7 linked regions of the Homo sapiens genome follow. The protein of the gene in region 7 interacts with the protein of the main gene of each other region in a pairwise test. Each region holds a gene or a part of one and is shown on either strand. Other genes may lie near its edges.

Region 1 (4,431 bases), on a different chromosome or scaffold from region 7:
GTCTGTGTTGGCCTCAGCCTTCCCCCAAGCACAAAAACAGATGCAGGATTAACAGTCAACTCCTCTACTCTAACTGAAATCCCTGCCACACTGTCAGAGACTAAGAATTCAGAAACTTCTTTGCAGATCTGTAGTCTCTCTATTCCAAGGTTAGAGAAGTTGTCACTGTTCCACCAGCCCACCAGGCTAAGGTACTGCTCAGCAAGTACTTAACGGTGCCACTGTTAAAAAAAAAACTGATCAGGAGCCACAGAAATAAACTTGTGCCTCATCAGAGAAAAACATCTAAATATCAAAAAGCCAAAGCACTGTAGAAAAAAATCTATAAAATAAAAAATATATTAAAAAGGCACATGGGCCAGGCATAGCGGCACACGCCTATAGTCCCACTACTCTGGAGGCTGAGGTGGGAGGATTGCTTGGGCTCAGAGGATTGAGGCTGTAGTGAGCTGTGATCGCCCCATTATACCCCAGCCTGGACGACAGTTTCAAAAGGCACATGGAACATACTGAGCCTTATGTATTAAGAAAAGACTTATTCAGCAAACTAGACTTAAAATTCATATGTGCATATGTATGTTGTGTATGTACATATGGACATATGCACATATACATACACTTACAAGCTCACAAATAGATTAATATACAGACACACAATTAATTAATTATAGGCACCAGTAATAGCAAAACTGCTAGCTTTTTAACCAAAAACCCACTTTTACATCCTGGGCACATAGCTAGGCTACACTTGCCTTCTTCCATTTCTCTTAGGTGTACCACAGAGGGGCCATGTTACAAGTTCCAGCCAACCAAACATAAACAGAAGGAACTATTCCTTCTCTTCATTTTCAGCTGTTGTATAACAAATTACCACAAATTTAGCAGCTTAAAACAATACCCATTTATTATCTTACAATTCTATAAATTAGAAGTCTGGGCCTGCTTAAGTGAGCTCCCTGTTGAGGGCCTCACAAGGCCAAAATGAAGGCGTTGGCTAGACTGGGCTCTTATCTGGAAGCTTGGGGGAAGAATTCCCTTCCTCTCAGATTCTTCAAGGCTGTGGGTCTAAGATCCCTATTTTCCCTGCTGATGGTCACCAAAGAGCTGATTTCTGCTCCTAGAGGCTGCCTGCATTACTACTCACATGGCCCCTCCCTCTTTAAACCAACAACAGCATGTCCAGTCCTGCTCATACTTCCAATCTCTCTGATTTTTCCTTCCACTACCAGCCAGAGAAAATATCCTGCTTTTAAAGGGCTCATGAGATTAGATTAAGTCCAATCATATAATCTCCCTTTTGTCTTACAAAGTTAAAAGTCTCAGGAATAACATCTTTTCAAATTGAACATTGCACCCACACTCAAAGGGGAGGAGAGTACACAAGAGCAAGAGTCACCAACAATCGTAGCATTCTGTCTACCATATTCCTCTTCCAGGCCTGGCTTATGAACATCTCCCATGCTTGTTCAAACATATTCTTTCCCTTTGGCAACCTTGAAAACCATATGTTACAGATGGCAGAACCGATCCAGGGTCATCCTGAGTCCCTGAAGCAAATAACGGGAAATATAAATGAAAAAGACTTTGAGCAACAAAGTACCATTAAGACTTCTTGGTTAAGCCAAAGTATCAGGCCCTCTTGTTAAGTTCAGAGTAACACAACCAAGTCTACTGGATGAAAATTAGGTCTAAAAAAGAATTTCCATCATAGAAATTGGCAAATGAAACTCACAAGAAAACACATCAGAAGCCTATTAAGTTGAAGTTTTTCTGGTTTTTTTTTTTTGGTTTTTGTTTTTTTGAGACAGTGACTTGCTCTACTGCTCAGGCTGGAGTGCAGTGGTGCAATCTGGCTCACTGCAACCTCTGCCTCCCAGGTTCAAGCAACTCTCCCAGGTTCAAGCTTCAGCCTCCCGAGTAGCTGGGACTACAGGCGTAGGCCACCATGCCTGGCTAATTTTTGTAGTTTTAGTAGAGAAGCGGCTTCACCATGTTGTCCAGGCTGGTCTTGAACCCCTGGCCTCAGGTGACCCGCCCACCTCGGCCTCCCAAAGTGCGGGGATTACAGGCATGAGCTACCGCACTTGGCCAGAAGCCTACTAAGTTTATGAAGAAATTTCATTACTCAAATCTACCATGGATAGTGAAAACCCTATGACTGTAAAACAATCCCCAAATTTAAATAAACAGGAAGTTGACTGAAAAGTTATGCCGTTCCCAAAGAGGGCAGATTTCCTCTAACCCTCCTTAGACCTGGCCAAATATATATAAGAAAGAACAAGAGTTCTTCCCAGATTGCAGAGCCAGATTGTAAAACCAAGGAACTTCCTCTACTGGCAGGCAGGGGATTTCACAATGCCCCCTGCAGGATGCCATCACTGTTATGGACAATAACTGTCCTGACTCCCCTTCTCTCCTTTCCTCACTGGAGTCATTCACTGTGGACATTATTTCCTGTACTTTTTGTTTTGTTTTGTTTTGTTTTTGAGACAGTCTCGCTCTGTCGCCCAGGCTGGAGTGCAACGGTGTGATCTTGGCTCACTGTAGCCTCCGCCTCCCAGGTGCAAGCAATTCTCCTGCCTCAGCCTCCTGAGTAGCCAGAAATACAGCTGTGCATCACCAAGCCTGGCTAATTTTCCCATTTTTAGTAGAGACGAGGTTTTGCCATGTTGGCCAAGCTGGTCTCAAACTCCTCAAGTGATCTGCCTGCCTCGACCTCCCAAAGTGCTGGGATTGCAGGCATGAGCCACCGCACCCAGCCGATTTCCTGTACGTTTAAAAGCATAGGCTATCTGCTTTATGTTTCTTTCAAGCATTATTCTGTGATACGGTTTGGCTGTGTCCCCACCCAAATCTCATCTTAAACTGTAGTTCCCACAATCCCCATGTGTCATGGGAGGGACCTGGTGGGAGGTAATTGAATCATAGGGGTGGTTACCGCCACACTGTTCTCGTGATAGTGAGTGAATTCTCACGAGAGCTGACGGTTTTATAAGGGGCTTTTACCCCACTTTGCTCTGTACTTCTCCTTGCTGCCGTCATGTGAAGGACATTTTTGATCCCCCTTCTGCCATGACTGTAAGTTTCCTGAGCCCTCCCTAGCCATGCAGAACTGTGAGTCAATTACACCTCTTTCCTTTATAAATTACCCAGTCTCGGGTATGCCTTTATTAGCAACATGAGAACAGACTAATACATAGCTTGATATTGAGATGTTTCTCAGCATTATAAAACTGCTTCCATTAGTATCTATGGGGAAAGGTTAGTTTGAATTATAAAAAAGATATTTCTATTTTTTATATATATCATAATTCAAAAAAAGGCAGAAAACACTGCCTAGAGGTCCTTCAGTGTCCTAAGTATCCAAGTAAACCTCCATGGAGCTGTGGGTTCTTCACGAGTATTACAGACAGCTTCTCCATATTCATTACTACTATATACAATTTGACCCAGGGGATGGCGGAGGGAGATTAGGGTAGAGCAACTACAACATCATATTTGGCATTTAGAAGTTGTACTAAATGTAAAACCTTTATAAATAGTGAAATTATTTCCTGAAGCATTTGTCATCAGCTAATGATTTAGTATAGCATGAAAATATTTTGTTGGTAGAATGCAAAAGACTTGGCAGGGTCTCACAATCATGGCATTTTAATAAGTATAGTTATAGCTCTCTTTAGTCTTTATTATCCATCGGATACCATGTACATCATTCTTAAGCTTTTAGGCTCCTTAAGTGATTATGGAAACAATAAATTCTAAACCAAAAACACTGAGAAGGGTTGTACTACAAAGTTTCAAAACTTCACATGTTGTCTCCTGCTGCCTCTTGCTGCCTCAACATTCATTCCCACATACGCTAACTGTGAACACCCCACCCAGGTAACCAGGTGCACAAGTTTGATAAGGTTGGCCCCTACCACAAGTTCACCTCTCTGTCTTCTTCTGACCACGACCTACCAATGCACCAATGCAACGCACTGTGAACTGCACTGAGCTGTGAACTGCACTGAGATCACTAGTAAAGGCACTTGCCCACAGTCCTTGCTCTCTCTGCTCCCACCTGTTTCCCACCTGCTTAGCTGATCCTGCTCTCAGAGCTGTCACCTCCACCCCACGTGTCCCCCCTCCTATCCTCCTGTACAGTGATTGTCATTCTAAGACATGTGAGTATAATAAACTCTGTTTTCTTGAGCCTCTCCTATGTCCCCTCTTGTGGCTACACCTCACTGAACATTACCTAAAAGAACACAGGACAAGGGTACGAAGGATTAAAAGAACAAAAAGAGAAAAAAGGAGGCCAAAAAATCCACTGACTTCTTACCTACTTAGCATCTCCCCTATCTGGCCTTAAATTGAGAAGAATTGCTCATCTCTAGAAAGCCCCATCAGGTATCCACCTTAAAGTTTGAAGCAGTTCTTAAACTCCAT
Region 2 (4,314 bases), on a different chromosome or scaffold from region 7:
GTCTCAGGGTCTGGCCCCACTGTAGGGACCACCCGTCACTTCACTGTGGGTGGGGGCGGGGGGCTCCACTGCCTGTTCTCTCAGGGCCATTGGCTGGGAGGGGTCACTGTGGCTCCCTGCTAGGCCTGTACCCCCCAGGCTGCAGCCCTGGCTTCTAGAAGCAGTCTGGGGGTTCCTCTCCACGGTGGGCCCTAGGCAGACACCTTCTCAAGCGCTTACACCCCCAGGGGTGATGGCTAGCGGACCCCAGGCAGACTCCAAGAGCCAGGCTCTTAATCCCGGTGCAGAGATGTCACAGGCAGAGGGACTGTGCATGGGATGTGAAGGGGCTCTGGGTAGGGAGGGGAGGCCAGGAGGGGCAGAATTGGGGGTCCACCATCCACCCCCAGGAGTGCCAGGACACAGCACCCTCTGCTCTAATGAGAGCAGCCCTGCCTGCCTGAGACCTAATCACTCATCAACCAAGGTGGGCTCAACTCCGCATCGCTCAGCTGCAAGCCAGCCCAGTGCAGACACAGTTTAATAACTGGTGAGAAACAGACCATTATGGGTTAAGTGAATCAGGAAGACTGAGTATCAAAACTCAATAAACAATGTTAACAATTTTTTTTTTTTTTGAGACGGAGTTTCGCTCTTGTCCCCCAGGCTAGAGTGCAGGACGGAGTTTCGCTCTTGTCCCCCAGGCTAGAGTGCAGTGGCGTAATCTCGGCTCACCGCAACATCCGTCTCCAGGGTTCAAGCAATTCTCCTGCCTCAGCCTCCAGCATAGCTGGGTTTACAGGCATGCGCCACCATGCCCAGCTAATCTTGTATTTTTAGTAGAGACGGGGTTTCACCCTGTTGGTCAGGCTGGTCTCAAACTCCTGACCTCAAGTGATTCCCCCCATCTTGGGCCTCCCAAAGTGCTGGGATTACAGGAGTGAGTGACCCAGCCTGGCCAACAATTGTATATATTTTTTTATTTTAAATGGAGTTTCACTCTTGTTGCCCAGGCTGGAGTGCAGTGGCGCGATCTCGGCTCATCACAACCTCCACCTCCTGGGTTCAAGTGATTCTCCTGCCTCAGCCTCCCGGGTAGCTGGGATTACAGGCATGAGCCACCACACCCAGCTGATCAACAGTTGTATTTTTAAGAAGTATGTATCTAGCCAGGCTCGGTGGCCCATGTCCATAATCCCAGCACTTTGTGAGGCCGAGATGGGAGGATGGCTGGAGCCCAGTTCATGACCAGCCCAGGTGACATAGCAAGACCCTGTCCCCACAAAAAAATACAAATATAAGCCTTGTGTGGTGGTGGCACCTGTGATCCCAGCTACTCCGGAGTCTGAAGCAGGAGGATCACTTGAGCCCAGGAGGTCGAGGCTGCAGTGAGCTGTGATTGTACCACCGCACTCAGCCTGGGCGACAGAGACCCTCTTGCTAAATCTGGCGACCTTCAGCTAAGCAAGAGCGGGGGCCGCGTGGACCTGGGGAAGGCCAGACGGCGAGTGTGCACCAGCCCCAGGGCTCTGTCCCAGCCCCTTCTGGAAAGTTCCAGGCCTGTTTTGCTCCAGAGCTGGATGGCGTCAGGCAGTGAGCAGCCACGAGGGCAGGAGGCATCGTTAGCGCTGCCCCTTCACGTCACCCTGGAACCCAGGCCCTGCAGCAGGGGACCCCAAGGCCCACTCGGGCGCATGACAGCCACCCCGGCCATGTCAGAGCCCTCCTGAGCTCGTCACAGACACTGGTACCTGCACCAGCAGGTAGCACAAGGGCGCGAGACGGGGACTCCCTTCCCTCCTGGGAAGATGCCACCAAAACAGCTGGACAGACACGAGAGGCGGGGTCTGGCAGTGTGCACGGTGGGGACAGAGCCGGGCCGGGGCTAACAGATGGCCCTGTGGACGCGTCCTCACAAGCCAGGTTTCTTCCTATCTGTATATGCCAGGCATCTGCCAGGCTTTCCGCAGTGAACTCGGGGGCACTATCCTCGGTACCCAGATGCCCACCTGTGTGCCACTCCCCTCCCAAACCAGCCCCTGAGCCCGAGCTCTGTTACCTGCAGCGAACTCCTCGATGGTCATGAGCGGGAAGCGAATGAGGCCCAGGGCCTTGCCCAGAACCTTCCGCCTGTTCTCTGGCGTCACCTGCAGCTGCTGCCGCTGACACTCGGCCTCGGACCAGCGGACAACGGCATTGAACAGCCGCACCTCACGGATGCCCAGTGTGTCGCGCTCCAGGACAGCCACCAGCGTGTCTGTGGGGTGGAGGAAGGGGCTGCGTGAACACGACACCCACATGCCCACCCTGCAGGAGGCAGTGAGACTAACGTGAGGACCAGCAGTTAAAGCCGGGCTGGCAACTATGGCCCGTGGCCCAAATCTGGCCCTGTGAGTGTGTTTATAAATAAAGCTTTATCAACACAAGACCACGCCCCTTCATTTTCCTCGGCTGTGGTTGTTTTTAAGCCACAAGGACAGACTTGAGTAGCTTTGACAAAAGCTGTTCAACAGCAAAGTCAAAGCCATGGACCATCGGAGGACGAGATGGTCACCATCAGCTGGGATGGTGGGCTCTGGCCTGTGGCCTCCTGGCCAAGGCCCCGGACTCCCGTGGGGCTGTGCTAGGACCCAAACTCCTGACCTGCTGCAAGTGGTGAGGCCCCAGCTCACCTGTGCAACTCCCCCAGGCCCAAAGCTCCCACTGTCAATCCCCGGACCCTCCCGCCGAGGCCCCGCTGGGATTCCCACACCTGGGCTCCTGGGCCCTTACCCAGGTCAATGTCGGTGAAGCCCTCCGCGGTGATGGCGTCTGCAGTGTTTTTGTCGATGTTCTCCAGGCACAGGCTGGCCAGCTGCGGTTCATCGAAGAGTCGCGCCTGGCAAGAGACATCGACGGGGGGCGCGGTGGGGACATCAGCACCCAGCCCTCGGCAGATCCCCAGTGCGGGGCCGGTTCAAATGCAGCCCTGACCACACGGGCCTTCCTGAGCGTGGCCAGGAGCCACCAGGGTCTCAGCCACCAGGCCGGCCCTGTTGTGGGCCCAGAGACTCCCCTGTGACCGCTGACTGGGGCGGGAGAGTTGGGGAGTTCCCTCTCAGGACCTCAGAGGCCAAGGAAGGAAGAAAAAGATGCTCAGGTCCCTGTCGGCAGGGCCTGCTGCTTTAGGCAAAAGGGGCGTTGCAGCTGCACTCGGGGGGCAGCAGGGCCCAGGACCCCGAGTGGCAGGCAGAGGTGAGGTGGCCGGGGCCGACCGGTGAAGCTTCCCGACCACAACATGCCCTTGGCCACTTGTGGTGGGAGGGGCCGTGTCCCCGGCAGCTCCATCCCAAGACAAACAGCAGACATGACTTCTGACAGTCAGGTGACAGAGCTGGAGGACGCCTGTGCTCTTAGGGAAACAGAGGCTTAGTTAGTGGAAGGTGCTGGAAGGGCCTATGCCAGCAGGGACCCGGGCAGGCCTTTCTGCGGGCATCCTCCCGAGGACACCTCTCAAGTGGGTTCGTAGTGGTTTTAGGGGCAGGGAGGCTGAGGCAGCCACAAGATGAAGCCCGGGGAGTGAGCTCCAGCCTCCTCTCAGCTCAGGCAGAGGCCTCTCCAGCAAGGCGACCAGATGACCCGGACAAGAAACCCCTCCCTGTGGGAGTCCGGGATGCCCTGCATCTGACCTGCCAGGATGGAGGGGGAGAAGGTTCTGGGTCCTTTCCAGGATGCCGGACCCCCAAAGCCCATTGGAGGACCCAGTGCCGCTGTCCCCTCTGGCCACCCTCCACCCCCGACCAGGAGCTCACGGCTCCCAAGCGGCCGTCCACCCGTACTGGCCCCACGTCCTCTCAGCCTCCCTGGCCTGCACGACCTCCCCAGCCCCCGCCCTTTGGGCTGCACAGAGCCCAACTGGGGTCCCCTGAGATCCCTGGCCCTGCTCTGTCTACCTGACATTTCCTTAGAGAGAGAGAGAAAGTTCTCTCTGGTTTTTTTTTTTCTTTTTTTTTAGCCAGGCGCGGTGGTGGGGGCCTGTAATCCCAGCTACTGTGGAGGCTGAGGCAGGAGAATCGCTTGAACGCTGGAGGCGGAGGTTGCAGTGAGCTGAGATCGTGCCATTGCACTCCAGCCTGGGCAACAAGAGAAACCCCGTCTCAAAAAAAAATTATTTTACTTTTTTTTTAGAGACAGGGTCTCACTCTGTCACTCAGGCTGGAGTGCAGTGGCGCCATCTCCACTCACTGCAGCCTCAACCTCCCGGGCTCAGGCAATCTTCCTGCTTTGGTCCCCCAAGTAGTTGAGATTCCAGACATGCACCAGCGTGCTTGGCTAATTTATGAAATATTTTTTTTT
Region 3 (4,431 bases), on a different chromosome or scaffold from region 7:
AAAGAATGGAGAGACAACCTATAGATTAAAAGATACTTAAAGACAAATCAATCATATTGTATAGCCCTTATTTGAGTCCCAAATTATGGGGCAGTTGGGAAATTTGAGTATCGACCTAGATATTTGATGATATTAAGGAATTATTGTTGGAAAAAACTTTTAAGCTGTGATAATGGCATTATAATTGCCTTTCAAAAAGTATGTGTCTTTCAGAGATACGTACTGAAATATTTACAAATGAAATAATATGATGTCTAGAATTTATTTTAAAATAATCCAGGAGGGGAGGGACGTCATGGGGGCATATATGAAACAATATTGGTCATTAATAAATGATTTGTGCAGTTGGGAAATGGGTATATATATGGTCATTACATTGTTCTTTCTACTTTTTTGTAAGTTTAAATTTTTCTATAATAACAAGTTACCCCCAAAATGAAGATAATATAAAGAGATCTTTAGAACTTCCTCCCCCATAAAAAAAATTATCTCAAAGCTAAGAGAAATGAAACTGTGGACAAAAAATCATATAGCTAGTCTAAACTAGCGTAATTTGTTTTCTTCTGTTTCATGTCATCTCTTATTTGTTTGGTTGTTGAGACTCTGTCATGAAACGTATTCCATTTGTTGCAGGCAGATGCGTGTTTATTTGTAACTGAGTGGTAAGGGAGACGGACACCCACAGCTAGGGCGTGAGGAAGCTTGATAGTGTGGGTAGGGTTGATGGACATTTTGTAGAACAGGTACTCCCTAGGAGCTAGATAATTTGAAAAGTGAATGAATGCAGTCTGGATTTCATACCACTTAATTTAACTCTTCTTTTACCAGAGCGATACCAATTGGTGGAAAGGCACCTCCAAAGGCAGGACTGGACTAATTCCAAGCAACTATGGTAAGTGTTGCTGAGTGGTTTTACTTTAGCTTCGTTCACTTGGAATTTTTTGGTTCTTGATGCTTTTCTGCTTGCTACTGTGGCTGAGAAAGCAATGGAGTCATTGTCAGTCTAGGACATTTTCTATTCCATGAGCCTTCTGTTAATAAACTGGCCATGAACACCAGATGTGCTTGAGCCTGACTCTGTGGCCTAAGAGAATGCATTTTAGCATTCTTAACCCAAGGTTTCCAAGGAAACACTTATGGTTTTACTTTCTTCAACCCTTAAAACAATTTTTTTTAATGCTGATAAACTCAATCTTGCAGATAGTTTCTTAGACTAGCCGTTTCTTTTGTGATGGAGTAACCCGGCCTTGTTCATTCATGTTTGGGGCAGTGATGTTCATTAAATGCTTATCATGGCAGTTTGGAGACTTTGAGAGATGAGAGACACGGCTCCCGCCATGAAGCTGCTTCAAGCTGGAAGTGGGACAAACAGATAAAACACTTGTTTAGTTGTCAGCAGAATCAAGTCAAAAGAGCACAGAATTGATAAACAAGGCTCCTGAGTTTTAATCCTCTTTCTTCCATTTCCTAATAACACTTCCTACTGATTCTAGGACAGCAGCGAACATGCCTTCTTTAAGAGGCAGGTAGCTATGCTGATTGTTCTTTCTGAATACAGGAAGCAAAATACTCCCCTCATCCGATCCTACATAAATACACACAAGAGAACCAAAATTATTTTCAGGTATCTTTAAAGCAGAGTGATCTACAAAATGTAAAAATGAACATCAAATGCTTCCTTTTGCATTTTTGTGACTTTGTTTATTAAATACTTGAGTAATATCAAGTGTGCATTTAACTCAGGTATGCGGGTTTGTTTGTTTTTGTTTATACTTCCAGTTAATTACTATGTTATTGCCTTATTGCTTGGCTTGGTTTCCCTAAACACATAATTCAGCTTCATTTAATGCAAGAACTATCCATTTGATTTTCTGTTACTTTTTATCCACATTAAGTAAAGGAAACTGTGTTGAATGCCCTGGTACTCCTGAAGCTGGGGGACTGTGGTGAATGAGTGGCTTCAGTAAATCATTTGTGTGGCAATTCCACATTGGGTTAACACTTTTTATTTTCAATCTAGTGGCTGAGCAGGCAGAATCCATTGACAATCCATTGCATGAAGCAGCAAAAAGAGGTAGGTGTGATTCTTTTTGACTGAGGTATGCAGTACAGTAAAAGGCACGGATTTCAATTAGCTTTGACAAGTGCATACACCCACGTAACCAACACCCAGATCAAGATCTAGAACATTTCTGCCATCCTAGAAAGTTCCCTTTGCACCTTCTCAGTTAAATCCCTGCCTTACAGTCTGTCCCAACATCTACTACCCTAGAGAAGTGTGATTTTAGTTTTAAAATGTCAGTCAAGAAACACTGTTGTGGGGAGATGCAAGTCGAAAGACATGGTCTGTGACTTCCAAAGCACAACATCTGGCAGGGGAGAGAGAGATGTAACAGATCATTAAAATATGGTATGATAAGTACAGCAATTGAAATGTGTTTGACAGGCCGTAGAGGCCCAGGTGAGTAACTGGAGGGCAAGAGAATGGAAGGGTCTGGTGGGTACAGCATTTAGGAGAGCGTTGGTGTGGTGAGCATTTGGCCAGGGAGGGCATGACTAACAGGGATGAACCTGGGGAAGATCCTTGACCAAACAACGATCAGCCTTGTCTTGGGCTTTATTCTGTAGATCAGTAGTCCTCAGCTAGGGGTGATTCCTCTTTCACAAACCCCGAGGGTATTTGGCAATATCTGGAGACATGTTGACTGTCATGACTGGAGGGATGTTACTGGCATCTTTTGGGGAGAGGCAGGCGTTGTTGCCACACATCCTACAGCACACAGGAGCACCCCCACAATAAATCCAACCCCAAATGCCAATGGGGCTGCTGCTGAGAAACCCTGCTGTAGATAATGGGGAGTTTTTGTAAAGCCTCAATGAGCTCCATTTCATTCCATTTTTAGATTTTTTTGGAAATCTGAATGTACACAAGGAAATTATTGGTTAGGATTGTGAAAAAGTAAAAGGACTAAACTGACATTTAAAAAATTCTTTGTGAATTAGATACTTGGGACATTAGCCTGAGGATTTTAAATTAATAGTTATAGTTTAGCATATAAGAGCAGCAGCTTTGAGTAGGTTATTTAGCCTTTCTTATAGGAACTGAAGATGCATTTTAAATATGAATATGAATAGTATCTGCTTGTTCTTAGGTTTGATTGTTTTTTCCTCAATTTCCAGAATTTCACAAAGAAAAAAATAATATATACACATACACACACATACACACACACACACACACACACACACACACACACACACACCCCTATATATTTTTTAACAGAATAGAAATACCTTAAGTATACCCATTTGGGCAACTATTCCCATTAACTTATCATTAGAAACATTGATGTTAATACTTTCCATTAATAAGCTGGAAGTCAAAATGTACCATAATAAATGCATTAATGGGGAGGTCTTAATTTAATACTTGCTGATTAATCCATTGCAAATGGAAATTTATGCAGAATGACATTGATTTAAAAGCAAAATAAAAAGTGAAAGCTTTTTTTCTTGTGTTCTTGTAAATGTAAAATTCTTTCAGGCAACTTGAGCTGGTTGAGAGAGTGTTTGGACAACAGAGTGGGTGTTAATGGCTTAGACAAAGCTGGAAGCACTGCCTTATACTGGGCTTGCCACGGGGGCCACAAAGGTATTACATTTTGTTTGTTATATGTTTCTATGCTGCTGAAAATGTGTTTCACCTACGGGAGCCAGATTTACAAAAAATGAGAAAGGAAAAGCATTGGCTATTCTTTTTGAATCCTTTAGAATACCGGCCAAAACCCTTGTTCCTGGAAGCTCTGTAGAACAGTGGGTAGAATGTGGTCAGTCAGCCTCACTGCATGGGTCCCTCTCGCTTGAAAGACTGGACACTTCCTTTCCTCTCTCAGGCTTAGAAAGGTTACTGGAAAACAGCAGTAATATAAAAACAAAACCACTGTCTAATCTTACAGAAGGAAAGATCAGAATTTGCTCCTCTAGCTTAGCTTTTCACAAGGTCTTCTTTTATGATTTGCATTTTAAGTTTAATGCAAACTATTAGATTCAAGAGAAAGCCAACATTTGCCAAAGTTAGTGATTCCATTGATACTTTTTCTGTTGTAATCAATAATAATGACAAATTGAATTTTTAGATGTATTTCTTCCTGGACAAAAATTTATCACCCACCGCTTTTCTACCTCTCTCTATAACAAAAGAAATAAACTCAACAACAATAAGAAATGAAGATCTCAACAAATTAAATAGCAGTGCCAAAGGAAAATTTGTAACTGTCTACTAAAAAGAAGCCTATCTTATTTCAGCTAATAAACATGTTAGTTATATGAATGAAAAGTATTATAGTGAATGTAAAAATATTCCTCTAAGTGTCATATGAAAATGCAAAAGCCAAAACTATTAGAAAAAGTATATTTTCCTAAATAATTCCA
Region 4 (4,431 bases), on a different chromosome or scaffold from region 7:
TTATCACAATAGTAAAAAAAAAATCCTCAAGTTAAACCCCTGGATAGGATTGCTACTATTAAACAAGCATTCATTTCCTCTGCTATCCAAAGCTTGTGGATCTCAGCCTCTCCTGATCTTGAAGACTTCTCATCATCCCTAAGGTTTGTGAATAATTGACATCTGAGCATCATTAATCCCACCAGTTCCATTGTTCTAGCTCCCCAGTAAGTGTAAAATGATCTCTTTGTTACTTACTGATATAAAAGCTGAGTGATTTTGCTGACTGACTTTTTCGAGTTTCACAAGATCCTGAGGAACTAAAGGTTGTCACAGATAACTTATATTTCCCAGGTTCCTTCAGTTCTGCAACAAATTCATGTGCTTCTTCATCCACCATCAAATATTCAGTAAAGTTCTCTAAATCATATATAAAAAAGAGAAGATACATGAATAGACACCTGGAAAGGCCCTGGGTATAGACAAGTCGATTAATGAAAAAAAATTAGGTGTTTTAAATGTTCCCTCCTTTTGTCAAGTTCAATTACACCTCTAAACTAAAGGTACCATTAAAGAATAATAAATAAGAGTTCAGTATTTTTACAGTCTTCCAAATAACAAAACTCAAATACGGCATTCAAATCAATAAAACTAGGGATGGGTCTACACTGTGTATCTTTATGTACTCCTACCCAACAAAATTATGTGTACAAAATAGAAGTAGATAATCAGGAAAAGTTAACAATTGTTGGCTTTCTCATCACGAGGTAAGGGCTAAAAAATAACCAGGATCAAATATCTTGTAAGTTCTTTGTGGTAGTATTAACCATCCAGAAGTGCTTTAACATTTATTTAAAATACATCTAATTTTTAAGGTATATTTTCTGATGTACCCCTGAACTTAAAGTAAAATTAAAAAAATAATAATCATGGTAATATTTTTCCTTTATCCATTTGCTTTCAGATCTTCTTAAAGAAAGAATTATTTCACATTGCTTCACAGTCCATCCATCCTCTGCTGCTTATTACTTCATTTGAAGTCATTATCATCAGTTGGTGACTACAACAGCCTTCAAAAGAAGACACTGAGTCAGATAAATGCATAATAGAACCTTCATGAGAAGAGGCAGTAAAAAATTTTTGTAATGACAAGATCCTATTTGCCGTAGGAACATATTTAGGAACAGAAAAATAAATGATAGATTAAGGAAACTTTAAAAAAAATAGGAAATTCCAGGAAAATGACTTTTGACTCAAATAATTAAGAATTTTCATTTTATGTAATATTTGGGTATGGTTGAATGCTGTATCATCTTGTATAGAAGAATCCACAGATTTTGTATCTCATGCTATTAAGTAAAATAGGAGTAAACAATATGTCAGTATATGAGACTACATGGGCCTTAAACTCTCACCCTAAAAATAAGGCTATCACTGTAACTTCAAATTTTTACAAATTATAACCTCTGCCACTCAAACTACTAGATCAGAAAATGGAAAATGAAGTATATTACTGTAAAAACTAAACAAACAACAAATAACCATAAAAATCTACCAAACAACAATTGAGATAGGTATCATGACCCAAACTTGTTGAAAGTCATGGCTCTACTTTCCTAAGTTAGTGGCTAAAATATAAAGAATGAACCTCAGATGCTGAGTTAGTCAATGCAAAATATAATATAGTAGCTATATGGAAATGTCAGCAGCTGTGTATTTTCCATTTTACTATCAGCTTCTCTTTGGAAAACTGTGGTGCTTTTTCTAGAGGGGCGCACCCTAAAGGGAACAAGAGCGGCTGGTTAGCAGGACACATGCCTCATATTCTTGAGGAAGTAGTAATGTTTTCATAAGTATTACTTTGCTGCCATGTTTAAAAATTTGCATATGAGAAAACAGAAAATTTCTCTAGGTTATGTTGTAACATTCTGGGATAGTTAGATCTTTAATTCAAAATATTTCCAAATATGATGTTTTCCTCATTGTTCTGAGACATGAGAAATAGTGGGCAGTCAAATGTATACAGTTGGCAGTACTTACAACTTGTGAATCACCCAAACCTTCTGATTCTTATCCAGTCTATTCATTTGGGTTTTCTGCTCTCAGTCTGCATTGGATACTCAATTAAATTCTCCCCTTTCATTACCATTATTCTTTGACTAATAACTGTCTATGATCAGTCTTTCTAAACTCAAATTTAAAAACATTTCAATTCCCCTTCCTTTGTATCAGTTCTTATTTCCTCTGATTTCCTACTGCTTTACCTTCTCGTTCAATATGGATATGGAACCCATCAAAAGCAGTGGGTGGTTTGGGTGGTAACCAGGTCAATATCATTTGCACAGGGAAAAAGGAGAAAGAGCCTGATGTTGACTTCTCTGTCTCACTGAGTGTACTGTTATTTTCGTATTCCATGGGAAGTACGCTGACAAATTCATCTTCACTTTCAGGAGCTGCAGATGCACTGTCCCACCAATATGGCTGAGACGTAGTTTCATAGTCACTGCTATTAAAATCAGGCCAACCGGAAGAAATGTTGCCCGAGGGAATTTCAGGGGTTTCTTCTGTAAAATGGAAGAGTTTTTCTTTTCCTATTGTATCTTGTGATCTCATGAAGGATTCTTCTGGGAAATTGCCACTCTGTTCTTCCCAGTTGTTTTTGTTCAAGTTTACGATACGAACGGAAATATTTTGAGGTGGATAAGGGGCTGTAAGAGAGAGAATTTTCATTTTCAAGTATTTTTTAATTCAATTAGAGTGAATACTTAATCTCTTAATGAGTCAGGTACACAAGCAGATTTTTAAAAGTGGAATTTAATTTTACTTCTGATACACAGACAAATTTACATCAAGATAAGCTGTGTTTTTTTCCATATACATACTTCTAACATTTTGTGGATGATGTATACCTATCAACATACCACTAGTCACACTTCAAATATATTAACTTACAATATTATGCTTGTTGAAGTGGTAATTCAACCACTTCTAAAAGCAGAGTATATAAATATTTTTCAGTTTATCGTAATTCCACTTACAAAAAAATGTATCTCTGTTCCTGGATTTTTATTACAAAAAAACCAAAACAAAACAAGTATAGTGTACTTATAGCTATGAAGATGAAAATACTCCATGTGACATAGTTGCACCTACAAGAGTTGCATACATGTGTTGCCTTTAGAGATGTTAACACACATGTTAGAAATATAGCTTCACTCCTCACCTCCCTAAAATGAAACATATAAACTCAAAATGAGTTTACAAATTATGGAAGCACACTTTACTTACAGGGAGAAAATTATGAAGACGCACTGCGTAGTCTCTGCCTGTAACAGTTTCTACTTGTTCTTCAAATAGCAGTTCCATTATCACCTCTTCCATGAACTTTTTTGTTAATTTTTATTTTGAGACAGTATCTCTCTCTGTTGCCCAGGCTAGAGTGCAATGACGTGGTCTCGGCTCACTGCAACCTCCGCCTCCTGGGTTCAAGCAGTTCTCCTGCCTCAGTCTCCCGAGTAGCTGGGATTACAGGCACCAGCCACCATGCCCAGCTAATATTTGTATTCTTAGTAGAGATGGGGTTTCACCACGTTGGCTAGGCTGGTCTCAAACTCCTGACCTCAGGTGATCCACCTGCCTCGGCCTCCCAAAGTGCTGGGATTACAGGCATGAGCCACCGTGCTAGGCCCCATGAGCTTCTAATAAAAATTTATCTCTCCTTCCTTTGTGTTGTTAAATAACTTTGTACCTCTGTTATAATATTTATCTCATTCTGCCTTGTGTTAGTGCCATTCGTGTATTATGAGTACCAATTTTTGAGCACAAGGATCCTGTCTCATCAGTCTTTGTCTTCATGTCTCAGTACTGAGAACAACTTCCAGGTAGAAGGTGCTCAATTAATGTTTTTCTACTTACATTGAATAATGAAAAACATAAATAGAATCTTAACTGTTGACATTAGGTGAATTAGTGATTTAGCTGAAATAGTTTCCTGGTCTTAGACTAATGAATAAGAATCATGACATCTTAGAATTTCAAATTGTCAAGACCTTAGAAGTAATCTATCATAATCCCTTCCTGATGCTCATCAGAATGGCCTCTCCAGCATTCCTATTGAGTATTCAGGCATACTAGGCACATACGATTTTGCTTATATTGGTGATGGGTACTTAGTAGATATATGCTTATTTTATCCATTCATTATTCCATCCATCCATCCATCCATCCATCCATCCATCCATCCACCCATCCATCTATCCATCCATCCATGCAACTATCCATCCATCCTACAATAGTGCTTCATATTAGTGGTGCTACTAAAATCAAGCACCGCAAGTTTTAGATACATTTGAATTTCAATATTTTCCTTTAATAATCTGATAATCTGTACTAGAATGTCTTCACTCTGTTTTCTGCCATAGGGTCACTTGTCAGCAATAACTGATGTCTACT
Region 5 (4,431 bases), on a different chromosome or scaffold from region 7:
GGCCAGGAGTTTGAGACCACCCTGGCCAACATGGTGAAACCCCATCTCTAAAAATACAAAAGTTAGCCAGGCATGGTAGCGCATGTCTGTAATCCCAGCTACTCAAGAGGCTGAGGCAGGAGGATCACTTGAACCTGGGAGGCGGAGGTTGCAGTGAGCTGAGATCACACCACTACACTCCAGCCTGGGTGACAGAGTGAGACTCCATCTCAAAAATAAATAAATAAATAAAATGTTAATAACTAGTAAAACTAGTTCATAGTCATTACCCTTCTATTTCAATATTTCCTTGCTATTCTCATGAATTCATTTAACTAGGTATATTTCAGTATTAATATGACACATTTCTCTCACAAAAATCTCACTTCAATTTTGACTAGTTCATACTTTTTTTCTTTGAGTATTAATAAGATTAATCTTAGGAGTTTTTTTTTTTCTTAATAAGTGACTTTTGCCATCCTATTTGATGATTTCCATTTTTATTTCCTTTTTCTGTTATAAGACTTTTTCCTCCCTCTAGACTTCAAGTGAGAATTGAACAAGTTCTGCTAGAGATTATGTTCTTTCTCCACTAAGTCTTCTAGGTCCAAGTAAAGAGAATAGGTACGTTGGGGTATTTCTGTGGCTGGCCAAATGAGATGCCCCTTTGTCCTGGGGAGGGGTAGAGAGGTGACAGCATTATGGGAGGAGGAAGACAAGAGTTGGGGCAATGGAGATTCCTGTTGTGAGAAGGATTATATTATAGTTGTTTAGACAGCTTGAAATTCATGGAGTAGCGCCTATATCTCTAAGGAACAGGGCACTCTAAGGAGCCTTCATCAGCGGAGCTCCCCAGGTTGTACCAAGGTGGCTTCCTGTTGCCTTCCTATGGCAGTGGTTCTCAACTTGGTGGCACACTAAACAGCCCACTGCCCAGGGTGAACCCGGCATCAGTATTTTTTGTTTCTCAGGTCCTTCCTATGTCCAGGGTAGGTTGACAACCACCAGTGAAATGATCCTCCCCTCTCCTTCCCCTAAGGAAGCGTTAAAGGTTAAAGAGACTCAGCTGGCGAGGAAAGAGAAGGGGGTAATGGTAGGGGAGCTCTTCTTCCTCTTCAGGGAGGCAGCTCCTGTACTGGGTCGTGACTTTGAAACTCTGAACCCACCTGCAATATAACCTCTATGATCTACATGATGTTTCTAGCCTCTAGACAGCTCCTTCCGTGACAGACCCCACCCCTGCCTAAGTCTGTGTATTCCTCTTGTCATAATGATGAAAGCTAGGGGGTGGAAGGCTGTAAATATTGGGGATTAGTTCACTATTTTGAATTTGAACAGAACAACATTCAATGATTTCAAACAAAGCATGGGGAATAGAGGGCTTACAATACAGAACTTTTCATTTTCCTTGGGTCATGGAGTGTGTATATGGGTGGGCAGGTGGGGGCTGAGCACTGAAAACCAAGGGCAACCTGAGCTGTGAGTCAAAGTCTACTTTATTAATGTATAACTGTTTTAATGTGGATTATAAAAATAATTATTATTCTTTTAGCATTTCTCCCACTACTAGACTAGTTTTTAACAGAGAAGGGGTCAGGTGCCAAACCACATGGTAGTCTCGGGAAGCATTTCCTTGAACACAGAATGTTAATGCTAGAATGGAATTTGGCAGTCCTCCATGAGTCCTCTCCTTTTCCAAGAGAAGCCATCAATGCCTCTGAGAGGTCATAATGGCCTGGCCCCAGGGCTACTGGCTGAGCCAGAAACAGGAGGGCTCCAGACCCTAGGCCATCAGCTACCTTGCTCCATGTCACCTCGTACATGATCTATGACACCACTAAGGGTTGCCAAGACATTTCATAGGCTGACACACTGATTACAGGGCTAATGATAGATAGATAGATAGATAGATAGATAGATAGATAGATAGATAGATAGATAGATTTATATATTTCCCTCCCATTTACTCTATAAGCCACCTGCAATGACCAAAATGCTTAGTGGCAAGCATACATTTGTCCAAGTGTATGCACCACCTCCATGTGTAAACCAGGCCACCACCTCCATGTGTAAACCTGGGTTCTTGCTGCACACACACACAGAACAAATCATGGAAAAGCTGCATTACTCACTTCTCATGTCATTCATTCTTGGCAAGGAACCACTGCCACATTGCCCACTTTGATATTCTGAGAGCTGGAAAGAGACCAGCACTCATATCACACTCCATCAGCACCTAAACCCAAGGCAGGGCATCTCTCCAGAGACCACTGAGTAGAAAGACCCTGTTCAAGAACTCCCTGACTCAGGCAGTACAAGTGCACCTGGCCCTCCAGCCACCACTGGGCTGGCTACAACACTAAGAGCAATTGGCACTTGCTAAGTAGGCAGTTGGTAAATCCACCCCAACCAGAGCTCAGACTGGCTGCCCTGAATTATACATGCAGCCGGACGATATTCTGAAGTATCAATGCATTTTTCATTCTGGGTCATTTCTGTTGCCTGGGGCCCTCAACCCAAGGAGCTGGGGCTTGCCTCCCTTACTTGAGGAGGAGGGTGGAACCCAGACATGAACAAAGCAGTCAATGTTTAGCTTTTAAATTCCCAAATAATACCATTTCAGTTGTGAAACATTGTGAAAGCCAAGGCTTTTAGGCTTTCATGCTAGAGCCAGGTAGGCTTTTATAAGATTTAAGAGCGAGAGAGAGAGAGAAACTTCTGGGTTCCAAGAACTAGAGCTTGAAGAACTCAGAGCCTAGCATTTTGATTACAAGCCATGGAGAGGGAGGAGCTGTTTCCTGCCATCCAGAGAAGAGATACAAGCTCTTTCTGGAGGCAGGGAAGCAGGGAAGGGGCCTGCAGTGAGAAGAGGGTGAGCAAGAAAATTGAAATGCTCCTTGGATGCCACCCTGGGGAAGGGGGTCTTAGACTCCACTTTCCACAGAAATCCCGGGAGAAGGCAGCTGTCAAAGTTCTCTGGACTAACACGGGGGCTGGAGCCCAGTGGAAACCATGTGGTGTCACTAAGTACAGATGGGGCCTGAAGGCTGGTCGCTCCCTGTGAACTGTGAACAAATTCCCTCAAGTCCCCAGCAGGAAGTGCTGAGGGGCCACTGAGGCCAGAGGCTGCCTGGGGGCAGTGACACACGGCTCCAAATACAGAGATTCAGCAACCCAGAGAGGGAGGCCTAAGCCACAGATGTCAGCACAGATCCTGGCCCAGGCCCCAGGCCTCCTGTGACGAGTCACCTCAGCTGTGGAAGTGAGCCTCCCTACCTGCCACCATGATGTTCTGTAAACCCCCCTCACATCTAGGCAACATCTTAGGACTGGACCAGGGGGAGGAGAGAACCTTCAAGAAAAACCAACAGCCCTGATAGGGAATTTCTACTCTGAATTGACTGTGTTTAAATCTGGAATCGCCTAAGTCATAAACGGATAGTCTATGCTTTCTATTGGAAGAGACTGAGCTACCTTGAAATGGCAAGATTATGCTTTTTTCCACCATTAGAAGAAATGGAAAAAAGATTTTAAAGCTTTTTTTTTTTTTTGGTCAACAACAGAAATGGAAAAAAGATTAAGTTGTTTCCGCCATTGGTCTACATAGAGGCTTGCAAGCAAGTTCAGTTCAGCTAAAGAGAAATTAAGTTGCTGCCCGCCTGAGGGACAGTGTGTGAATTTTCCCTTGACACAAAAGTCACCATGGATGGAGCCCCAAAGTCCAGGCAGAATGGGCTGGATTTCCTCAATGGAGGCTTTCCAACTGTTAGATATAAGCCTCTCCAAGGGACCTGAATGCTTGGTTTCCCACCATCAGAAGCCAGCACCTCAGCTGAAAACGTCTCGTAAGAAAAGACTGATCCTACCCAGCGTCCCATCCCTGTTGACAACCCCTTCCCCTTGCCCCTGTGGTCCTGCAGCTGGCAGTTCCTCATCCACCTCCACCTCCTTGCTCTCTCACATTCAGTAGCTGGCACCTGGAATCGCTGGGCATAGTTGTGTAGGAGCTCCCAGGTGGCTGCTGTGGATCTCGGTGTCCTTGAACAGGCGGCTGAAACCCCTGACCCTGGGCTGTCCAGTGAGACGGCTTCAGCCAGCACTGCCCTCCCCAAGTGGCCTTGTGTTGATTTTCTCTTACTCCTGAGACCTGGCTTCAACGAAACGTGAGAGCAGAGGTGGGAAAACACAGTCTTCCTTGTTAAAGTATTGAAACAAAGATTATTTTAACAGAGAAAAGGGAGTGTCCCTGTTAAATATTTATTATTCAAGCTCTGTTCCACACCATTAGGAAAAAGAGAAAGAGAGAGAGAGAGAGAGAGACCCTACCACAAGAGTTTAAGACGGCTGGTCAGTAAGTACTGTATCAGTAACACAGTAGGAGGTAGGAAAACCACGTCCCCCCTGAAATAAACTGAACTTCCCCCTTGGCATTAATATGGTTCAGTCCCTCTT
Region 6 (4,431 bases), on a different chromosome or scaffold from region 7:
CCTGAAGCGGGCATATCACCTGAGGCCAGGAGTTCAAGACCAGCCTGGCCAACATGGCAAAACCCCGTCTCTACTAAAAGCACAAAAATTAGCCAGGCTTGGTAGCGCATGCCTATAGTCCCAGCTACTGGGCAGGCTGAGGAATGAGAATCGCTTGAACCCAGGAGCCAGAAGTTGCAGTGAGCCGAGATGGCACCACCGCACTTCAGCATGGGTGACAGAGCGAGACCCTGACTCAAAAAAAAAAAAAAAAAGCCTAGTTTTCCTCCTTAGGTGACCACAGAGGAGTTAACTAATCTTGTCTAAATTGGGCAAAATGCACAGAAGTTAAACTCTCAGATAAGCCCTTCTTTACATCACTCATGCTTTGCATCAAGGTGCTCATTGATTGTATATGAATAGTTACCCTTACAGGACACAGGCAGTGACATTCTGGAAGGTCCTTCAGCGAGGGAAATGACTGTATATAATCTGACACCTCTCATACCAGATGGTAATGAGCTGAACCATGGGATTCGAGCAGCAGCGTGTGAGGGTGGATGTGTGATAAGATCAGAACCACCTTTCAGTTAATTAAAGGTTAACTCTCATTTAACACTTTGATTCTTGCTTCCACCTGTTCATTGGTTCACTGGGCTGCTATCTGTGGGCTGATGCTCTACCAAGTGCTCAGCCTACAGCAGTCAGGAGGCAGCCATGGCCCCTGTGCTGATGGAGCTTGTAATTTAGCCCCAAACTGATCTTCAGAAAGAGGTACAACAAATAGTTCCAGCAGTTAGAATAAAAGCGACACATCCAAAGAAAAATCAGAGAAGCACATATAATTTCCCATGCAGATCAACTGTGAAATGGATGAACTCAGGTAGCAATTTCACTGATCTTTGAAGCAGAGAAATGAGACTATTTTAGATCTTTTTAGGCTTTTGGTTTTGAACATTTGTAGATTTCATTTACCCCAAACCATAATCCCATATTAAGTAGAATTTTTGCTGTTAAAAATTGAAAACTTTTTTTCTTCCTTTATAATTCAGTTTTTCAAATTATTCGACTATGAGTAACTTATTTAATTTAGGATTGCCTGTGGGTTCTTGGCAACCATGATGCATATTTAGAAATCTTTGCAAAGTGAGAAAAATATAACCTACATACTGTTTTCTAATATGATGAAATAGTTATAAGCCCTAAATAAAACAATTAATGGGGCAGACATGATATGGTTTCCTAGACATTGACCTAAATGTTTATTAATTTCTATTTTGCAGTTTTTGTGTTTCATATTTTGGAGTCAAAAGATCTTTTATTCAGCTCCCAAACATTCTTATAGGCACTGGGCATATTGCCTACAACGCCTAATGGATAAAACGGCCCTGTGCACAAAACACAGAGTGAAAAAGACCAATGAAATTAAGTAAAGGTGTCAGCGTATATGGTTTTCAGATAACTTGGAGAGTTTTTTTCCACCCTTTGCAGAATTCTTGCAGAACCAAAGAGAAAGCCACACACTCAAAAAACACAGCATATGTGTTAGCAAGAAAGCACTTGTACCTTCGGTGTGTCGTAAGAAACACAACAGGGCTGATGTAGTAGGAAATAAACTCTGAGAAAGGAAACGCAAGGTGAGAGGAATGCATTCTTTTAAGCCCCTGCCATGCTAAGCACTGAGCCAGGGACTTTCTATGTATGCTTCTGTTTAATTCTCACGACAGCCTATGAAGTAGTTAGTATCATTCCCATTAAACAGATGAAGAAACCAAGGCGTAGAGATGGTCAGTAACTTACCAAAGGATATACAGCTATGGAGAAACAACCCAGCATCAGCTGAACCCTGAAGGCCTTACTCTCTCCACAATTCTCACACTGTCTGCTTGTTTCCTAAAAGGGTGGGGATTTTATGACTATATTTCTTTCTCTAAATGCTGATTTAATATGTGATGAATGTCAGTTAGTGTGGAGGGGATGCAAGAGGGTGGGTAGAGGTTGGAGTTTCCAAGAGAGCAAAGTTGAAGTGATAGAAGGCAGAATTCACTGTCTTTTTTTTTTCCTTAAGTGATTCATTAGTAGAAAAAAGCAGTGCTGGGTAAAACTTCGGAAGCCCACAGTCTGTAGCAATATCAAGGGAATTTTGAACTATGGAAAGTCCCAAATCATAATCAGATTGGAGCATGTCCCAGCCCCTTCATGGTCCCTTTACAGTGTTTCTCAAAGTCTAGTCCTAGGCCACCACCCACAAAACTATGCAAGGAGCTCAATAAGATGCAGATTCCTGGGCCCCCAACCAGACCTACTGGATTAATTTCTCTGAGGGAAAGACCTGGGAATCTGCATTTAAACTCACTGCCCTACCTCTCTGGGTGATTCTATGCCCATTAACATTTTTAAACCCCACCCCGGTGGCTCAGAATAAGATTCCACTGCCTCCTTATTTTCTTATTCAAGAGCTTTTAAAGACCATAGCTTAAACTACCAGGCATATCTAGTTCTGGGCTCATATTATCTTACAGATGAAAAATTTAAAGAGAAAATGAGCAAATTGCTTTATTAAGCCAGTCAGTAAAACTACTAAAATGCAAACTCAGAAAAATGAAAAAGCCACGCCTGATCCCCAGTGTGCTGGGATTATCTCTTAGGGCCTAGGCTTAAGTCATTAGAATGATTCCCACCCACTGAGAATATCCTATACCCAGGAAGATGTTGACAGATGTTTTTTAAAGCAGTTGCAATTGCCTGGAAGGCTAAAATCACCTCCTAGCAGCTAAGCCATCTCCACTATGAAAGAAAGGAAGGAAGGGAGGAAGGGAGGGAGAGGGAAGGAGGGAGGGATGGGGGGAGAGAGAGAGAGAGAGAGAGAGAGATAGAAAAGAGAAGTGAGGAAGGGAGTGAAAAGAAAGGAAGAGGCAACCACACTCCCATGGATGTGAACCACTGCTCTGGGGTACATGGAGAGAGGCAGCCTAGAGACCCAGGATCAGGATACTGTGGAGAAGCCCTTGGTATTTGGCAGGGAAGGTGCCAGGGCCACCCTCTTGCCCTCCCCATCCTGGCCATGTCACTACCCCAGACCCTGACTGTGTGATGCTTTAGGCACGGCCTACTCTTCAGCCCTGGCTGCAACTCCTGGAAGGGCTGGCACAGGTCATTTTCAGAAGTTGATTTCCTCCTGCAGGACTCATCTACCTTTTGCTAAACAGAAAATGTTCTACTGAGTGTAGACTTAAAAAAAGCAAAACAAAACATGGAATGTGAGTGCCCGAGGGTCACCCCAGCACCCCAGCCCTTTGACATCAATCCAAGGGAAGATGAGTCCGTATCTCTGCCCTCTGGAAGGACGGGGAGCCATGGGGAAAGCCTGCAGGGCAGTCCCAGCAGATACAAGGGGAAGAAGTCTGAAGGCTTAGGCTTCTCTGACTTGGAGCTGAAAAGGTTGGGTCTAAAAAGGAAAACACGCTACCTTCCTGCCAAAGTCAACTGTGATGAAAGTTTAGAGCCCACCACCTCCCAGCCAAGCATTTCCTGCTCTGGCCTCCCCTTCTGCCTCACACTGGCTCAGATGTGGGAGAGCTATTTTTAAGGTGCAAACAACCAGGACTAAGAATGAGTGAAGTTACTTATTTATAGTTACACCTTTCAACTGTTATTTTTCCCCTCTGGAGATAGAAGCCAGGTTTTGTTTTCCCTTTGAATCTACAATTCCTAGGACAAGGAAGACTGAAAAGCCACAAGTCAGTTTATCACCTCTAGGCAGCATCGTTGTCGTGGGCAGTACAAGTCTAAAAGCTGTGCACCACCCTTGAGGAATCCCTCTTAACGAACCTACGCTCAGTTCATGCCACACGCGTGCTCTTGAGAAGTATTTTGTAAAACATACTTTTTATATCAAAGGTGATTTAAAAATGCATTAGTGCTTTGTTGTTTAAAGGAATCTACCCACACAGGGTCAGGGTCTGGGGTGGTGACATGGCCAGGATGGGGAGGGCAGGAGGGTGGCCCTGGCACCTCCCCAGCCAAACACTAAGGGCTCTCCACAGGGTCTCTAGGCTGCCTCTTTCCATGTACCCAAAAATGCATTAGTGCTTTCATTGTTTAAAGGAATCCTTTGTTTTTTCAACAGAGGATTCTAATACATCAAATAGATATTCCCTAATTTACAGAGGTTTGTAAAATCAGACTTCATATTAGATTTACTTGGGGCAGGACACATCTATAGTTAGTGTTCTAAGGGTCAACAAGCTCTTTCTGGTATGTAATTGCATCTTTCCTCTTGTAATTCAGGGATATCTTCTTATCCAGTTAAATTTGTTCATTCCTAATACCAAACCTTGTAGGACCCATTGGAATTTGCCAGCAAATGAAAGAGAAAATCCCTCCTTTGTGATGCTCACATAAGCATCACCTTGGTTGTGGGTGTTACCCCCGATCAGTCCACTGACATTA
Region 7 (4,431 bases):
AGGAAAATCCTACAAAAAGGGTTAAATAATAAAGATAAAAATACAGATTAAAATTCTAACAAAAATGGCCTAAGGAGCTCTTGATCAAATACAAAGTTTCACTTAGGAGGACTAGGTTCAAGAGATCTATTGTACAAGTTGGTAACTATACATAGTTAATAACAATGTACTGTCTTCTTGAAAATTGCTCAGTTGGCCACCCAGTGGCTCAGGTCTGTAATCCCAGCACTTTGGGAGGCCAAGGTGGGTGAAACACTTGAGGTCAGGAGTTCGAGACCAGCCTGGCCAACATGGTGAAATCCCGTCTCTACTAAAAATACAAAAATTATCCAGGCATGGTGGCTCATGCTTGTAATCTCAGCTACTCCAGGGGCTGAGACAGGGGCATCACTTGAACCAGGGAGGCAGAGGTTGCAGCCTGAACTGCAGCCTAAGTGACAGAGGGAGACTCTGTCTCAAAAAAAAAAAAAAAAAAAAAAAAGAAAGAAAAGAAAAGAAAAGAAATGAAAAGAAAAAAATAGAAAAAAAGAAAATTGCTGGCCAGGCACAGTGGTTCACGCCTGTAATCCCAGCACTTTGGGAGGCCGAAGTGGGTGGATCACCTGAGGCAGGCGCCTGTAATCCGAGCTACTCTGGAGGCTGAGGCAGGAGAATTGCTTGAACCCGGGAAGTGAAGGTTGCAGTGAGCCGAGATGGTGCCACTGCACTCCAGCCTGGGTGACAGTGCAAGACTCTGTCTCAAAAAAAAAAAAAAAAAAAAAAAAGAAAGAAAGAAAGAAAAAAAAGAGAAGTAGAGATGGGAAATATTGTTCTTTCTTAGAACTAGGGGTGGAGGAACAAGGTGAGGCTAAGACAGTTCCTTTACTCACTTTTGAGGCTACAATAGGTAATTAGGATAAGCATTGAAACGTCCATCCTTTAAAAAGTTACCTTTTGATTTGGGTAGGCAAAGGCACACAGGCGCTTATATGCATCCAATTTCTAAGACAATAGAAAACTGAGTTAGTAAGGCAAATAAGGTTCCTACCCTTCCTCCCAGCAGCACCGTCCCCAGCCTGGGACCTCACCTGGCCTTTGGAGCTCAGCTTCAATTGTTGGCACCAGGCCCGCAGAATGTCCCGGTGAATCAGATTAACAGGTGGCAGTTTAGAAGGTAATGGAGGGATTGGTATCTTCTTCTGAGGTCTGGGGTTGTCAGTGTGCTCTGCCTTTTTCTTAGGGCAGAGCACTGAAGCAGAATGGAATCAAATGAGTAGTAATTATCTTTGTGTAGCTTTTCTGAATTTCAAAAGTAAAATCACTTTTTTTTTCTTTTTTGAGACAGAATCTTGCTCTGTCGCCCGGCTGGAGTGCAGTGGCGCGATCTTGGCTCCCTGCAACCTCCGCCTCGTGGGTTCAAGTGATTCTCCTGCCTCAGCCTCCTGAGTAGCTGGGATTACAGACGCCCACCACCACGCCCGGCTAATTTTTTGTATTTTTAGTGGAGATGGGGTTTCACCATGTTGGCCAAGCTGGTCTCGAACTCCTGACCTTGTGATCTGCCCACCTAGGCCTCCCAAAGTTCTGAGATTACAGGCCTAAGCCACCGCGCCCAGCCTAAAATCACTTTTAGTTAATAGTCCAATCCCTCTCAAACCTAGGATTTACCACTTCTAAAACCCAGTTTTATTCCTAAATTGCCCCACTACTGAGGTACACTTGCTCCTTTGTGAGCTCCTTAATCCACAGAATCCAGGTGGTGGCATCGGAGGTTGCACTTCCATCCCAGGGGAATTACCGCTGTCTTAGACTTGAGATCATACTCAGTGGTGTCCTCTACCCCCAGAGCAAAATCAACACCTGACAATGCTACACAGGCAACCACTAATACCCTTAATTCTGCCAGCCCACCCTAGGTCAGGGAAGCACTCTGGTTTCATAGCAGGTATGTTTCCTTAGCTCTGCTGTGTTTCTGTTCATCCCGCTTCTGCACCTCACATACCTTGTCTTCATTCAGTAAAGATTTCTGGCTGGGCGCAGTGGCTCACACTGTAATCCCAGCACTTTGGGAGGCCGAGGTGGGTGGATAACCTGAGGTCAGGAGTTGGAGATCAGCATGGTCAACATGGTGAAACGCCGTCTCTACTTAAAAAATTAGCTGGGCGTGGTGGCACATGCCTGTAATCCCAGCTACTTGGGAGGCTGAGGCAGGAGAACTGTTTGAACCCGGGAGGCAGAGGTTGTAGTGGGCCGGGATCGTGCCATAAAAATTTCTAAGGCTGGGCATGGTGCCTCACACCTGTAACCCCAGCACTTTAGGAGGCCAAGGCAGACGATCACTTGAGGCCAAGAGTTTGCAATCAGCCTGGCCAATATGGTGAAACCCTGTCTCTACTAAAAATACAAAAATCAGCCAGGCATGGTGGCACACGCCTGCAATCCTAGCTAACTTGGGAGGCTGAGACAGGAGAATTGCTTGAACTCGGGAGGCACAGGTTGCAGGGAGCTGAGATGGTGCCACCACACTCCAGCCTGGATGACAGAGCAACACCCTGTCTTGGTGTCTCAAAAAAAAAAAAAAAAAAAAAAAAAAAAAACCAGCCTGTAATGACACTAATAGTAGGGTTTACTCTGTACATATTACTTCTCAGGCATAGTCTAAGTGCTTCACTTAACTACTCTATGTAAATTTTAACACTCCATTCCCACCGCTTAATAAAGGTAGATATTGTCCTAACTTATTTTTAGAATAGGAAGTCCGGTTTCAAGAATGGATCTTCAAATTTACAGCTGTCTGTTCCCAAATCATTGCACACTGAAATCCTTAACTCCAAGTAGCAAGTGAAGGAAAAAATGATCAGCAGAACCAAATATGCTGTGGAAGTCTGAAGATAGGAAGGGATCAGTTAGAGCAGTGGTGACCAAAAGATGCTTCAGGAAGGTAACAGTTTAAGCTTGGCTTCCATGAAGTGCAGGATTTGCACAATACATGATGGAAATTTCTTCCCTGGTTTTTCTTCTTCAGAAAAATTCCTCTGGCTTCTAAGACCCGAGAAGGTGGGATTTGAGAATTTGAAGACCTCTTACCTTTACTGCCTTTGATAGACATTTTTTCTTTGGTTCTCTTTGCTGATGTTCCTGGCAAAGCAATTGAATTTGGTTGATTAGAAGCCTGCTGATCCTCTTCCCTCGACTTCTCTGTGGAGGTCCACTGGGGAACAGAGGAGCTGGTCAGTCATTCCTCTAGTGTCCAAACCACACATACACTACCTGCCTCAAGATAACTCACTTCTAAGGCACCAACGCAGTTACTGGACTCCACTGGCAGTGTGGATTCTCCTCTGGGTATCATCTTAATACTCAGTTTCATTTACAAGACTGGGAAACAATGATGGAAAAAAAGGGAGGAAGCCAGTTTGAAAGCACATGAAAAGACAGATACAAACAAGAGTAGAAGAAAACAGCTCTGCCTTGAGGGGAAAAAGCGCTTAGGTAGGCTCACGCCTGTAGTCTGAGTGCTATAGGAGGCCTAGGCAAGAGGATTGCTTGAGTCCAGTAACTGGATACCAGCCTGAGCAACAACATAGTGAAACCTTGCCTCTACATAAGGAAACAAAATTAGCTGAGCATGGTGGTGTGTGCGTGTAGTCCAGCTACTCGAGACTGAGATAGGAGGATTGCTTGAGCCAGGGAGGTAGGTAGAGGCTGCACCACTGCACTCCAGCCTGGGTGACAGAATGAGACTGTCTCAAAAAAAAAAAAGAGGCCCTTAACTCACTTACTATATTCCATCATCTCTCACCTGGCAGAATTTTTTCCCCCAGTCCTTCATTCTTGACGCCTTCCAAATAATTTTCTAACACTGTTGGCAGAGTGACACTATGAAAAGTTTCAGTGGTTTATTGCTCTTAACATAAAAGTAATTGTCTTTAACATTACCTACCAGCCTCTTATCTCCTATTTCACACTGCTCTCCCTGACCAAGCTCCAGCCACATAATTCCTTTCCTTTCCAAAGTTGTTACATTCCTCAGCCCCAACCTCCACCCTACTTCTATTTACACTTTAAAATCTTACACCTTAAAAATCTTACTCTTCTTTTAAAAGTCTCACCTCAAGTGCTATTTAACCTGGTCCTTCCAGACCAATCTACTAAATACTACCTCATTTCTACCACTTGTTAATTGCAATTACATTGGTTTGTGTGATTTCTTTTTCATCATAGGCACTCAATAAATATTGGTTCATTGAATTAAAGGAAGCAAAGTGGGAGTGGGGAAAAGTTGTTTAATCCAGAGACAGTAACATATATTGAGCCTCTGTCTCATACTAGGCATTGGCTTTGATATGCTCCTCACTTTCATTTTTTTAAAAAATATTTATTTATTAAAGAAAAGGTCTTGCCCTGTCACACAGGCTGGAGTGCAGTGACAGGACCATAGCTCACTCCAAG

What was found.
Region 1: the proteins of DPPA4 (region 7) and SH3GL2 interact in a two-hybrid assay, tested with the Homo sapiens proteins (one large-scale study listed by BioGRID and IntAct).
Region 2: the proteins of DPPA4 (region 7) and BTBD2 interact in a two-hybrid assay, tested with the Homo sapiens proteins (one large-scale study listed by BioGRID and IntAct).
Region 3: the proteins of DPPA4 (region 7) and OSTF1 interact in a two-hybrid assay, tested with the Homo sapiens proteins (one large-scale study listed by BioGRID).
Region 4: the proteins of DPPA4 (region 7) and PTPRO interact in a two-hybrid assay, tested with the Homo sapiens proteins (one large-scale study listed by BioGRID and IntAct).
Region 5: the proteins of DPPA4 (region 7) and SH3GL3 interact in a two-hybrid assay, tested with the Homo sapiens proteins (one large-scale study listed by BioGRID and IntAct).
Region 6: the proteins of DPPA4 (region 7) and NEDD9 interact in binary tests that used the Homo sapiens proteins (3 or more experiments, as listed by UniProt).

The regions. Positions count from the first base shown.
Region 1 is NC_000009.12:17,585,255-17,589,685, reverse strand, and holds part of SH3GL2 (endophilin-A1), read right to left. Parts: intron 1-4,431. UniProt on the Homo sapiens protein: Implicated in synaptic vesicle endocytosis. May recruit other proteins to membranes with high curvature. Required for BDNF-dependent dendrite outgrowth.
Region 2 is NC_000019.10:1,987,966-1,992,279, forward strand, and holds part of BTBD2 (BTB/POZ domain-containing protein 2), read right to left. Parts: intron 4,092-4,314; coding exon of another isoform or gene 3,912-4,091; intron 2,858-3,911; coding exon 2,752-2,857; intron 2,406-2,751; exon of another isoform or gene 2,237-2,405; coding exon 2,039-2,236; exon of another isoform or gene 993-2,038; intron 530-992; exon of another isoform or gene 1-529.
Region 3 is NC_000009.12:75,129,750-75,134,180, forward strand, and holds part of OSTF1 (osteoclast-stimulating factor 1), read left to right. Parts: intron 1-828; coding exon 829-892; intron 893-2,020; coding exon 2,021-2,074; intron 2,075-3,544; coding exon 3,545-3,652; intron 3,653-4,431.
Region 4 is NC_000012.12:15,499,876-15,504,306, reverse strand, and holds part of PTPRO (receptor-type tyrosine-protein phosphatase O isoform a precursor), read right to left. Parts: intron 2,688-4,431; coding exon 2,244-2,687; intron 400-2,243; coding exon 238-399; intron 1-237.
Region 5 is NC_000015.10:83,611,113-83,615,543, reverse strand, and holds part of SH3GL3 (endophilin-A3), read right to left. Parts: intron 4,131-4,431; exon of another isoform or gene 4,127-4,130; coding exon of another isoform or gene 3,957-4,126; intron 1-3,956. UniProt on the Homo sapiens protein: Implicated in endocytosis. May recruit other proteins to membranes with high curvature.
Region 6 is NC_000006.12:11,207,941-11,212,371, forward strand, and holds part of NEDD9 (enhancer of filamentation 1), read right to left. Parts: intron 1-4,431. UniProt on the Homo sapiens protein: Scaffolding protein which plays a central coordinating role for tyrosine-kinase-based signaling related to cell adhesion. As a focal adhesion protein, plays a role in embryonic fibroblast migration.
Region 7 is NC_000003.12:109,330,804-109,335,234, forward strand, and holds part of DPPA4 (developmental pluripotency-associated protein 4), read right to left. Parts: intron 3,191-4,431; coding exon 3,067-3,190; intron 1,229-3,066; coding exon 1,068-1,228; intron 982-1,067; coding exon 931-981; intron 10-930; coding exon 1-9. UniProt on the Homo sapiens protein: May be involved in the maintenance of active epigenetic status of target genes. May inhibit differentiation of embryonic cells into a primitive ectoderm lineage.